3 linked regions of the Homo sapiens genome follow. The protein of the gene in region 1 interacts with the protein of each later gene in a pairwise test. Each region holds a gene or a part of one and is shown on either strand. Other genes may lie near its edges.

Region 1 (3,500 bases):
CACATACAGAAAGTCCTAGAATAGGAGTTTTTTTTTTTTTTTTTTTTTTTTTCGAGACAGAGTCTCTCTTTGTCTTCCAAGCTGGAGTGCAGTGGTGTGATCTTGGCTCACTGCAACCTCCGCCTCCCGGGTTGAAGCAATTCTCCTGCCTCAGCCTTCTGAGTAGCTGAGATTACAGGCACCCACCACCACGTCCGGCTAATTTTTGTATGTTTAGTAGGGCTTCCCCATGCTGGCCAGGCTGGTCTCAAACTCCTGACCTCAGGTGATCCACCCATCTCGGCCTCCCAAAGTGCTGGGATTATAGGCGTGAGTCACCGCACTCAGCCTTCCTGGCGGTGTTTTAAAGCACATACAGTTAGATACAGAAAGTCCTAAGATAGGAATGTTTTCTATGAGTTCTCAACACAAGCTGAAAAGATGCACACTCAAGAATTCTTATGGCAGATTGTGAAAAACAATGTCCACCAAGAGGGGACCGGTTAAAAAAGTGTTGCAATGCCCATGGAATGGAATAGTTTGCAACTATATAAAGAATGAGGTGGAAAAGTTCTTCAAGATATATTGCTAGTCCAAGCGTGGTAGCTCATGCCTATAAATCGCAGCACTTTGGAAGGCCAGGGTGAGCGGATCGCTTGAGCCCAGGGGTTTGAGATCAGCCTGGGCAACACAGCAAAACCCTGTCTCTAAAAAAATAAAAATAAACAACATAAAAAAAGGAAAAACTAGCCAGGCATGGTGGCATGTGCCTGTAGTCCCAGCTACTTGGGAGGCTGAGGTTGGAGGATCGATTGAGCCTGGGAGGTCTAGGCTGCAGTGAGCTGTGATCATGCTACTGCACTCCAGCCTGGGTGACAGAGCAAGACTCTGTCTCAAAAGAAAAAAAAAAGATATATTGTTAAGTGATCTTATTTGTGTAAATTTAAAAAACGATGTATCGGCAGGGCTTGGTGGCTCACACCTGTAATCCAGCAATTTGGGCAGCTGAGGCAGGAGGATCGCTTGAGGACAGGAGTTCGAGACCAGCCTGGGCAACATAGTGAGAACCCCCTCTTCTTAATTAAAACATTTTTTCCTTAAAAAAATGATGTACTTATAAATACTTGCATATGCATACCTTCTGCAAAATTTCCAGAAGGCTGTGCAATAAACCGTTAAAGATGGTAAACTCTTTGAACACCTACAATGAGCTATGTATGTCCTTTATCTCTAATCCTTCCCAAAACTTGCAAGGAATGTATTATTAGCTCCATTTTGCTGGCAAAAGATTGAGCCTCAGGTTGTTTAAGTAACTTGCCTCAGGACATACAGTTAGTAGATGACCCAAAGCTTCCATTTTGTGCCCTGTATTAGGTGAAAGGGAACCGAACTAAAAGTCACAAAAGCTGGTCTTTAGTCCTGGAGCAGCCTCCAACTAGCTAGTAACCTTTCTCAAGTCATTTTGCTCGAGGGGCCTTGGTTTGCTGTATTTTCTACCTGTCCCAGGAGGTAGCTGTGATGGTTGTGTGTGCTTCTTAGCACAGGTGTGAGCCACCACGCCCTGCCAATACATCATTTTTTAAATTTACACAAATAAGATAGTGTGAATGTGGGAGAATGAGGCAAACCAAGACAGAATACATCCAAGAGTTTAACCAGGAGGCCACAGTTGCAAGGGCTTTGGAAGGTCTGATGTGGAATAACTGAAAAGCCAGGCAGACTCCCTGGAGGAAGGGGTAAAGGAGTAATAGCACAAACATATGAAACCTTTTATTTACAGAGCCATGTGCCAAGCCTTTTGTACATGCTTTCCCCAAAGCATCCTACCAGCCCTGGGAGATGGGGTATTTGCTTTTACCTTGGAAACAGCCCCAGAGAGGGTCTGCATCCTGCTCAAGTGCACCGTTAGTGTGATGCATGGAGCTGGAATTCTAGCCCAACCACCAGACTCTGGAGCCCCAGCTCCTTTCCCTGCTCCTCATCCTTGCTGCCCATCTTCGTCCAGCCCATTCACACTCTCTGCATTCCTTCCTTAGGTCAGGAAAAGCCCACCGAAGGGCCAAGAAACACCTGCCTGGGGAGCAACAACATGTACGACATCTTCAACTTGAATGACAAGGCTTTGTGCTTCACCAAGTGCAGGCAGTCGGGCAGCGACTCCTGCAATGTGGAAAACTTGCAGAGGTGAGGGGGCCCCCTGAGCTGGAGGGGGAATCTGAAGCTGCTGGGAGGAGGACTATCAGGAAGGGATGGGGCCATCTTCCCCCATGGCCCCAGAAAATGTTGCTCCCATCTGACTCTTCCACCTTGTTTGACACCACAGTCCCCCTGACCCAACATCCCCATTCTAGCAGTTGGGGTACCTACTGATCTAGGGTATTCAGAGATGAATCCACTCCTATCCTGGCCCTTGGGAGTTGTGGAATGACAGACACAGACCCAAATAATGATGACTCCAGAGTGTATACAGAATGGCAGACAAGGTGCCAGGTTAGCCCAGAGGAGGGAAGTTGGCCAAGGCTTCACAGAGGAGGAAACCTGGAAAGGGCTTTGAGGGTGCACAGGAGTTTTCCAGCTGGATCTAAACAATGGTGAGGATACAGGCAACAGAACTTGAAAGTAATGGGGGATAACTGCAATGCTTTGAACTGTAACAATGTAAACCGCGTGGGGATGGAAGAGACAATGGGCAGATGCGATGGGTGGGAGATAGGACTGGAAATATAAGCAGAGACTAAGGTGTGAAGGGTTGTGTAAGTTATACCAATGGGTGAGGGCGGCAGGGCAATGACATATTTTAAGCGCAGGGAGAGTATAGTCAACTCTGCGTTTTGGAATGATTGCTCAGGCTTCAGGGACCGGTGATGCAGGAAGACATGACCCAGTAGGATGCATCACAGGGGTCTGGGTGGGAGTGAGGGCCAAGTCAGCACCACTAGCAGCAATTGGCATTGCGTGCTTGGAAAGGAGAGATGGATTGGGGAGATGATACGATGTAGACTCCGTAAGACAAGAGACTGGTTAGATGTGGGGGTGAGGGAAATGAAGGGGTTTAGAATACAACATCTTTAGGAGCCATCTCCAAAAATATCTCTGCCTCTCTTTCCTTTTCCCACTCCTAATCAAAGTTGCCCATAACTCTTCTGGGATGCCTAGAAAAGCACGTGGCTTACATTAGTACTTAATAAATATGTGTTAAAGGAATGAGTTAAAGCCCTGCGCTCTCAGGCTTGGTGTTAGGACAGCCATCTCATTGGATCATGTTATTTCAGTGGCCTGAAAAGGCTTCCATTCCCACCTGCAGGTGATCCAGGAGCTTCTTAGCACCCCAGAGCTGTTCAGAGGCTCCTCTTTGTGCTGCCCAGGTATATGCCCAAAAGAATTTAAAACAAGTCTCCAAACAAAAGCTTATACATGGGCCAGGCACGGCGGCTCACACAAGTAATCCTAGCACTTTGGGAGGCCGAGGTGGGCAGATCACTTGAGGTCGGGAGTTTGAGACCAGCCTGGCCAACATGGTG
Region 2 (3,732 bases), on another chromosome or scaffold:
ACCTGCCTTATTCTGGAAGCTGGTCTCTAATTAGCCACTGCATCAGACTCAGCTAATCAATTCGCTGAGCTCCTTGCTCAGTTTGCACCAAGCCTCATAGACATTGTGTGGGAGACACAAGACTAAGGGTTGAGGAACCACCCTATTTCACTTCTTTGGGCCCAAAGTGGACAGTGTGACTAACAGCTCCCCAAATGTAAATATGTCCTAAGTACAGCAGAGGAGCATGATCAAAAAGAATCTTCGAGTGAACACTAAAAATGATTTAGTCGACCACTCCATATGTTACCTTAAAATTTTAACTTAAAAATTTGCTGAAAGCCTGTTATGTGCAAAACACTGTGCTGGGCCCTAAAGATTAATAAAGGAAAGAAGGGAAGGAGGAAGCAGAGAAGACTGGAAGGAAGGATAAATATCACCTTTGCCATAGGAAGCTCAATCCAAAAGGAAGAGAAAGACATGAGTGCTTGACATTAGTGCTTGAAAAGATTCTCCTCTGCAGCATCCTCATCCTCCTCTCCATCACAGCATCCCCGTGAAAGCTGCTTTCCTAGTTCCCGAGTTTTCTAAATGACTGTCAGCCTATCGGCAACATCCTGTGCATTGGGGCTTAAGAGCTGTACAATGACTCAGTCATTTTCTCCGAAAGTTTTTGTCACTTTAAGCTTCTTTCCTCCTTGATATTCAGGAGACACTTTCCTTCACTGTATATATATCAATTTCTTCTTCACTGGGTAGTGTGGTCAGATGGGAAGAAGCTGGTTTTTAGTGTTCATAACATGTAGGATTGAATTTTGGCTTCTCCTTTTACTAGCACAGTGACCTGGGACAGGTTTTCTTCATCTCATGGAATGGAGTGCTGTTTAATTTTCCAGTAAAAAGGGGAGATATATTAATGCCTGTTTTGCCAGGTTTTTATAAAGATCACAACAGTAGTGACAAGATTAGAAGAGCAGAAATAGCAGGCACTCTCATCTTTTGTTCTCTTTGAGATATGGGTTGTACATGTTGAGTTAAATGGGAGTGTATTGTGGAAGTGCAGCGTCCTTGACATTCCATTTGGAGTTGAGGGGAAACAGGGTAAGCTCCCCATAGGGCACTGCTGTTTTTTGTATGTTCGACTGCTTGTTATTGAATAAAGTAATAGGTCATTAAGCCATAATGGCTGTAGCTGGGGATGGCACATGTTCCTAGTACTACTAGTTTAGGATTCAGATATCTGAAACACAACTACTCAATGCCTGGGAAAAGATACTTGTAACATAATATCAACAACTAGTATCCAGAATATAAAACTAACCACTTCAGATAGATAAGAAAAAGACAGATAAGCCAAGAGAAGGAAAGGAAATGAGTGAGAAATTCAGAGATGAAAAGTCCCAAAGAGTTAATAAACATGAAAAGATGTTCAACCTCACTAGTAAGCGAGGCAGTACAAATTAAAACAATGTGAAGCACTATTTTATACTCCTCGGAGTGGTAAAAATTTAAGTTTGGTAACACTAAGTGCTGGTAAGGATGTGGGAAATGGATATTTATACATTGCTGGGAGGGGTGGGAAAGGGAGAACAATTTTGTGAAGTTGGAGATGCACCTACCCTTAAACCCAACAATTCCTTTTCTTGGCATATGCCCATTGGAAACTCCCGCATGTCCAAGAAGAGATGCATGGAGACATTAAGGATGATTGCTTCAGCATAAGTTGTGATGGGGAAAATTGAGAATAGTGCATGTGATCATCATCAGAGGAATGGATAGGCTGGTATACTCATTTAAAGGAATCTGTGCAGGAGTTAGGTGAATGCCTTTCATTGAGATTTACTTTATGGGTAAATCTTAAATGTAATTTTGAGTGAAAAAAGGCAAGTTTTAGAAGATTATGTAGAATATGGTGCCTTTTATTTGAATAAAAACACAAATTATATTTTGTTATGATTACATAAATAAGTAGTAATTTGTAAAAATATGCAAGGAAAGGATGCATGCCAGCTTCAGAATGATGGTTAGTATTAAGAAAGAGAGAGAGGAGGAACTGAATAGTATGTAGGAGTCACTTTAGCTTTATTTTGTTTCTTAAATTAAAGGGCTGAACCCAATATAGCAAATATGAAGACATGAAAGCTAGGTAGTGGAAACACAGGTGTCATTATTTTTTATGATGCTTGCAATATTTCATGCATAAAATAAAGCCTCCATATTTTTGCAGTTCCCCTCTTTGTCTCTTTGTCCAGGGGATGTGCTAGACCCATGGCTTAGCATGGCTGTTTGTCTTTACACTGAAGCTCTGGAGAAGGGAGAAAGAAGCCCTGGGCTAAGCAATGTCCCAGGTGCTAAGTGGTCTGTGCTGCTGCTGTCCAGCAGCCATTTTGGGGTCTTCTCTTCTCTCCTTCCTATGGTCTGTGAGGCCTGTGTGGGCTCCAGCTGCTGATATTCTCACCACTAAGGCCACAGGGTGCCAGTGCAACTTCTGAGAGAAACTGAGTCATTTGGTCCTTATAAATGGAGTTCTTTTGAAGTAGCATTAACTTGAGTTTTGATTTATGGTGGGCTCAATTCTTGATCCAGAGCTTCCAGATAACGTTGATTCCAGGCTGGAGTGGAATCTCCTCTGCCTTAGAAGCAGTTTTGCTTTGTCAGGTGATGTGTAATATGATCTGTCGGTAATGTGTGTGGTTTAATTTGCTTCTGTTTGTTTAGCTCACAGATGTGTACAGTACATCGCCCTCTCTGGGTCGTTATTTTACTTCAGTTGAAATAGTGGACTTCAGGTAAGAGTGTGGAACATTACATTTTGCTCTCTTTCTCTGGAAAGAGATCCCCCCACCCCACCCTTCGTCATTTACCTAGCAGGGATTCCCAGAGCCTCAGAGCATGAAGGGAACCTGTAATAGAATCACAGAATGTCAGTGCTGGGAAGGTCTTTTACACCAACAGGCTCAACTCCCTTATTTTACAAATGAGAAAAAGGAAGCCCAGATTAATGGTATAATTCAACCAGGGTCACACAGAAGAGGGGAAAAGCCAGTCCCAGGTAAACCATTTCTGTTTAACAATGAATGCTCAAATAAGCTAAGGGTAGAAGTAGAAATAGATCTCAGGTCGTGCTGTGATGCGAGTGATACATGTATAGGCATTTGCTTTTGAGGAGCACAAGTAATACAGGAGTACATTCTCCTTGTTTAGTATTAAAGATGTAAAGAGGGGCCGGGCGTGGTAGCTCACGCCTGTAATCCCAGCACTTTGCGAGGCCAAGGCGGGCAGATCACTTGAGGTCAGGAGTTCAAGACTAGCCTGGCCAACGTGGTGAAACCCTGTCTCAACTAAAAATACAAAAATTAGCCAGGTGTGTTGGTGGGTGCCTCTAATCCCAGCTACTCAGGAGGCTGAGGCAGGAGAATCTCTTGAATTCGGGAGGGGAGGTTGCAGTGAGCCGAGATTGCGCCACTGCACTCCAGCCTGAGTGACAGAGTGAGACTCTGTCAAAAAAATAAAAATAAATAAAAATAAAAAAAAGAAGACATAAAGAGGTATGCACAGGAAAAGTCTCCCTTCTGCCTCCTTTCTTCTCCACTGCCACCACCAATAACTAATGCCATTCCCTTCCATGGAGGTAATAGCTGTCAAGAGTTGAGTGTAATTACTTCTGTTCATGTATCTACCATAGGCACCACAAATACTACACACACATAGGATATACACACCCATATGTATTTTTTATTTTTTAAATTTCCT
Region 3 (3,732 bases), on another chromosome or scaffold:
TATTGAGCTGCTGCTTTGTGTAGATACTACTAAGCTGTACAATTACTGGTGCATGATATACTCAACAAATTAGTGTATAAATGAGTAAAGGAATGATGCCACCTTTGCACTCATTTATTTACTGAGCACTTATGGTATACTAGACACAAAATATTCTAAGTGCTAAGAATATAATGGTGAGCAATACAGAAATCATCCCTGCTCTCATGGAGTGTGTATATTAGTGAGAGAGACATTGCAACAAAAATATATTAATATACAATTACAAATTGGGTTAGTTTGTGAAGAAAACTAACAGCTGCTATGATATACTGTAGGAGTGGGATCAGTTTAGATTGTGTGTTCTGGGAAGGACTTTCAGTCTAAGAACTGAAGGATATGTAGGAATTAGCCAGTTCAGAATTGGAGCATTGCAAGTGGGGAAGACAAAATCATGAAGTTTCTCAGTTTGGAAGTGGGAGGGCTGGAAGTGGGTTGGCATCCTTGGGGATCTGAAATAAGGCCAGTGGGTGGCTGGAATGTAGAGAGGGAGGAGTAAAGATGTACAAAATGAAGTGGAGTGTTTGGGAGGGCTTCCAGAAGATAACTGTAATACAGGTTCCAAAACTCAGAAGTTTCATTACTCTTAATTTCGGGAATAAAATAGAGATTGATTTGTGGCTTGGAAAAAGTGAAAAAACATTGGTGAATTAGGGATAATTGGTTAATCTATACTACATGGAAGTTGGTATTGTATTGTGGAAAGAATGTGGGCCTTGGAATCAACTAACTTCATCCTATCTTTGCTTCTTAATGGTGTGTGACCTTGGATAAGTTACTAAGCCTCTCTGAGTTTCTTTTCTTTCATTTGTAAAATGGAGATAATAGTGCCCCTTTATTGAGAGAATGAAACTAAATATGTAAAATACTTAGCAAAGGGCCTAGCTCATACTAAGCGGTCAGTAAACTACGTGGTGCTATTACTCTTACTACTATTTCTCTTCTTTCTCCTCAAGGCAGATAGACATCCGCCAGATTGTCTATAAAATATTAGCTAGGTGAACCTGATGAACACAGCAAAAGCATGCACAAACTGGCATGCCTGTAATGACTTTAGACTATTTTATGAGTAGTCCTCAGTGAAGTGGTGGGAGTATTTCAATCTGTCCCATGATTGTTGAAAAAGCAGAATTTTTTTCATCACAAACATAAATGGAACTGTATATACTTTGGGAAAACTAGCTTTGCATTTCAAATAAAGCATTATAAAACTAAATTTACTATGAAAAGCCATAATGTTATAGAACACACTATAGCCTTTTCAGAGAGAATCTTGCAACTGTAGTAAAATAAAGACTCCCTGAAAATGCTCACATGCCATGTTAAAGACATAGGGTTTCCTTTATTTCACATACAATTGTCTAGTTACATTTAGCACAAGTAAGATAGACCATTTGGGATAAACTGTCATGTAGGTGTCTGTGGCTGACTCTGTTATTAATATGGAAATACAGTAAGACTCTGACATAATACAAAAAATGGGTTCCAAAAACTTCAGTCATATTAATGGAGGATAATCAAATAACTCCTAGCTAGCCAATTGGGAGTTCCTAGGATGTGGAAGCCAATTACCAATTGTCTTCAGGTTATTGAGGTTATTATGGGGTATATTTGAATGCTAATGACATGTCAAAGAACTTTGATAATGACAGTGAAGATTTTTTTTGGAAAGAAAATCATTTGACAAAGCATATTTTGACCTTTGATTTAGATATTAATTTGTAGAAAAAGGCAATATGCTATGGCTAAATTAATTTGATTATGATCCTTAAGAGATACATTTTACTTTGTGAATGCTGTATATACACATATAGGAAACTAAAAAGTTTTATGAAACAATATTCCAATATTTTCTGTTATATTTTATTTCAATTTCTGGAAAATGCTGTAGTTCACTAAACTAGTTTTATGACATAGTGGTTTACAACTTGCACTTTGAAAAACATTGCACTAAATGACTGTGTATTAAGTGATGCTTCAGAAAGGAACAACCAGGTTACTCTAGAACCATAAGATCAGCACTATTTCACCACTAGTATATCCCATACCACTAGTAATAGACGACTAGTAGGTGGCAAGCCCATTTGGCTGCCTAGGATGGTCTTTAAAAAAGGTCTCATATATATATATACATATATATATATATATGTCACATGTATATATTCACACACATATTTACTTACAAGCTCTCACAGGAAGGATACATAAGAAATTATTACTAACCTGAATTGCCCAAGGGAAGGAGAACTGGGTATCTGGGCAAGAGTGATAAGACACTTTAAGTGCAGTATACCCTTTTATTTTTCATTCTTGTTAAATTTGAATCCTGTGAACATATTTATTCTAAACATTAATAAATTCTGCTTCTATGTTATTCGAGAAAGAAAATAGTAAGGTGACCAGTATGGATCAGAATTTTACAGTAAAAATTACTGTGTAGGCCGGGCGTGGTGACTTAGACCTGTAATCCCACCACTTTGGGAGGCCAAGGTGGGCAGATCACTTGAGGTCAGGAATTTGAGACCACCCTGGTCAACATGGTAAAACCCCATCTCTACTAAAAATATAAAAATTAGCCAGGTGTGGTGGTGTGTGCCTGTAATCCCAGCTACTCAGGAGGCTGAGACAGGAGAATCGCTTGAACCCGGGAGGCGGAGGTTGCAGTGAGCCGAGATTGTGCCACTGCACTCCAGCCTGGGTGACAGAGCAAGAGTCCATCTCAAAAAAAAAAAAAAAAAAAAAAAAGATTACTGTGTAGTTTAGCAGAGTCCAGCATAGGAGTGGTGAATTACATCCTGCATGCTGTTTACTGCCCCTGATCTAGACCAGCTATATTGACAGTGCTATGCAATGATGTTTAGGTGACTCATTAAAAAGGGTTACTTTGTGTTTTGTGCTCTGCTTATTTATTATAGTGGGGTATATACTAGATTCTAGAAAGCTTTTTTTCCAATAGAATATGGTTAATTTTCATGTTTCAGTGCTTATTTTTTCATTTTTAATTTCTGAATTTATTTAGAAGTAATTTCAAACTTACAGAAAAGTTGTATGAATAAGAAAAGTTCAAATAACACCTGTTCCCATAGTCACCTTTGGTCAACATTTTACCACATTTGTTTTCTCATTTTATCTACCTACCTACTTAACTATCTGATTTATTTTTTTTTTCCTGAACCATTTGAGAGAAACTTATAAATACCATGCCCCTTTCTTCATAACTACTTCAGAGTATATTTTCTAAAATTAGGGATATTCTCTTACTTAACCACAGTACACATATCAGCCTCAGTAAATTTAATGTTCCTACCATACTTTATCTACTCTACTGCCAACTTTCCTTTTTTTGTCGGTTGACCCAGGAATATGCTTTATAGCATTTTTTTTTTTTTATTGCTTTTTGGCACAGGATTTGGACTAGTGTTAGGTATTGTATTTAGTCGTCATATCTCTTTAGCTTCTTTTTTTTTAGACAGAGTCTCTCTCTTGTCACCCAGGCTGGAGTGCAATGGCGCAATCTCGGCTCTTTGCAACCTCCACCTCCTGGGTTCAAACGATTCTCCTGCCTCAGCCTCCTGAATAGCTGGGATTACAGGCATGCACCACCATGCCCAGTTAATTTTTGTATTTTTAGTAGAGACGGGGTTTCACCATGTTGGCCAGGCTGGTCTCAAGTTCCTGACCTCAGATGATCCG

The links.
Region 2: the proteins of ADGRG3 (region 1) and C3orf52 interact in binary tests that used the Homo sapiens proteins (3 or more experiments, as listed by UniProt).
Region 3: the proteins of ADGRG3 (region 1) and SEC22A interact in binary tests that used the Homo sapiens proteins (3 or more experiments, as listed by UniProt).

Annotation. Positions count from the first base shown.
Region 1 is NC_000016.10:57,671,306-57,674,805, forward strand, and holds part of ADGRG3 (adhesion G protein-coupled receptor G3 isoform 1 precursor), read left to right. Parts: intron 1-2,015; coding exon 2,016-2,163; intron 2,164-3,500. UniProt on the Homo sapiens protein: Adhesion G-protein coupled receptor (aGPCR) for glucocorticoid hormones such as cortisol, cortisone and 11-deoxycortisol.
Region 2 is NC_000003.12:112,106,846-112,110,577, forward strand, and holds part of C3orf52 (TPA-induced transmembrane protein), read left to right. Parts: intron 1-2,697; coding exon 2,698-2,768; intron 2,769-3,732. UniProt on the Homo sapiens protein: Has a role in LIPH-mediated synthesis of 2-acyl lysophosphatidic acid (LPA). LPA is a bioactive lipid mediator involved in different biological processes, and necessary to promote hair formation and growth.
Region 3 is NC_000003.12:123,218,711-123,222,442, forward strand, and holds part of SEC22A (vesicle-trafficking protein SEC22a), read left to right. Parts: intron 1-3,732. UniProt on the Homo sapiens protein: May be involved in vesicle transport between the ER and the Golgi complex.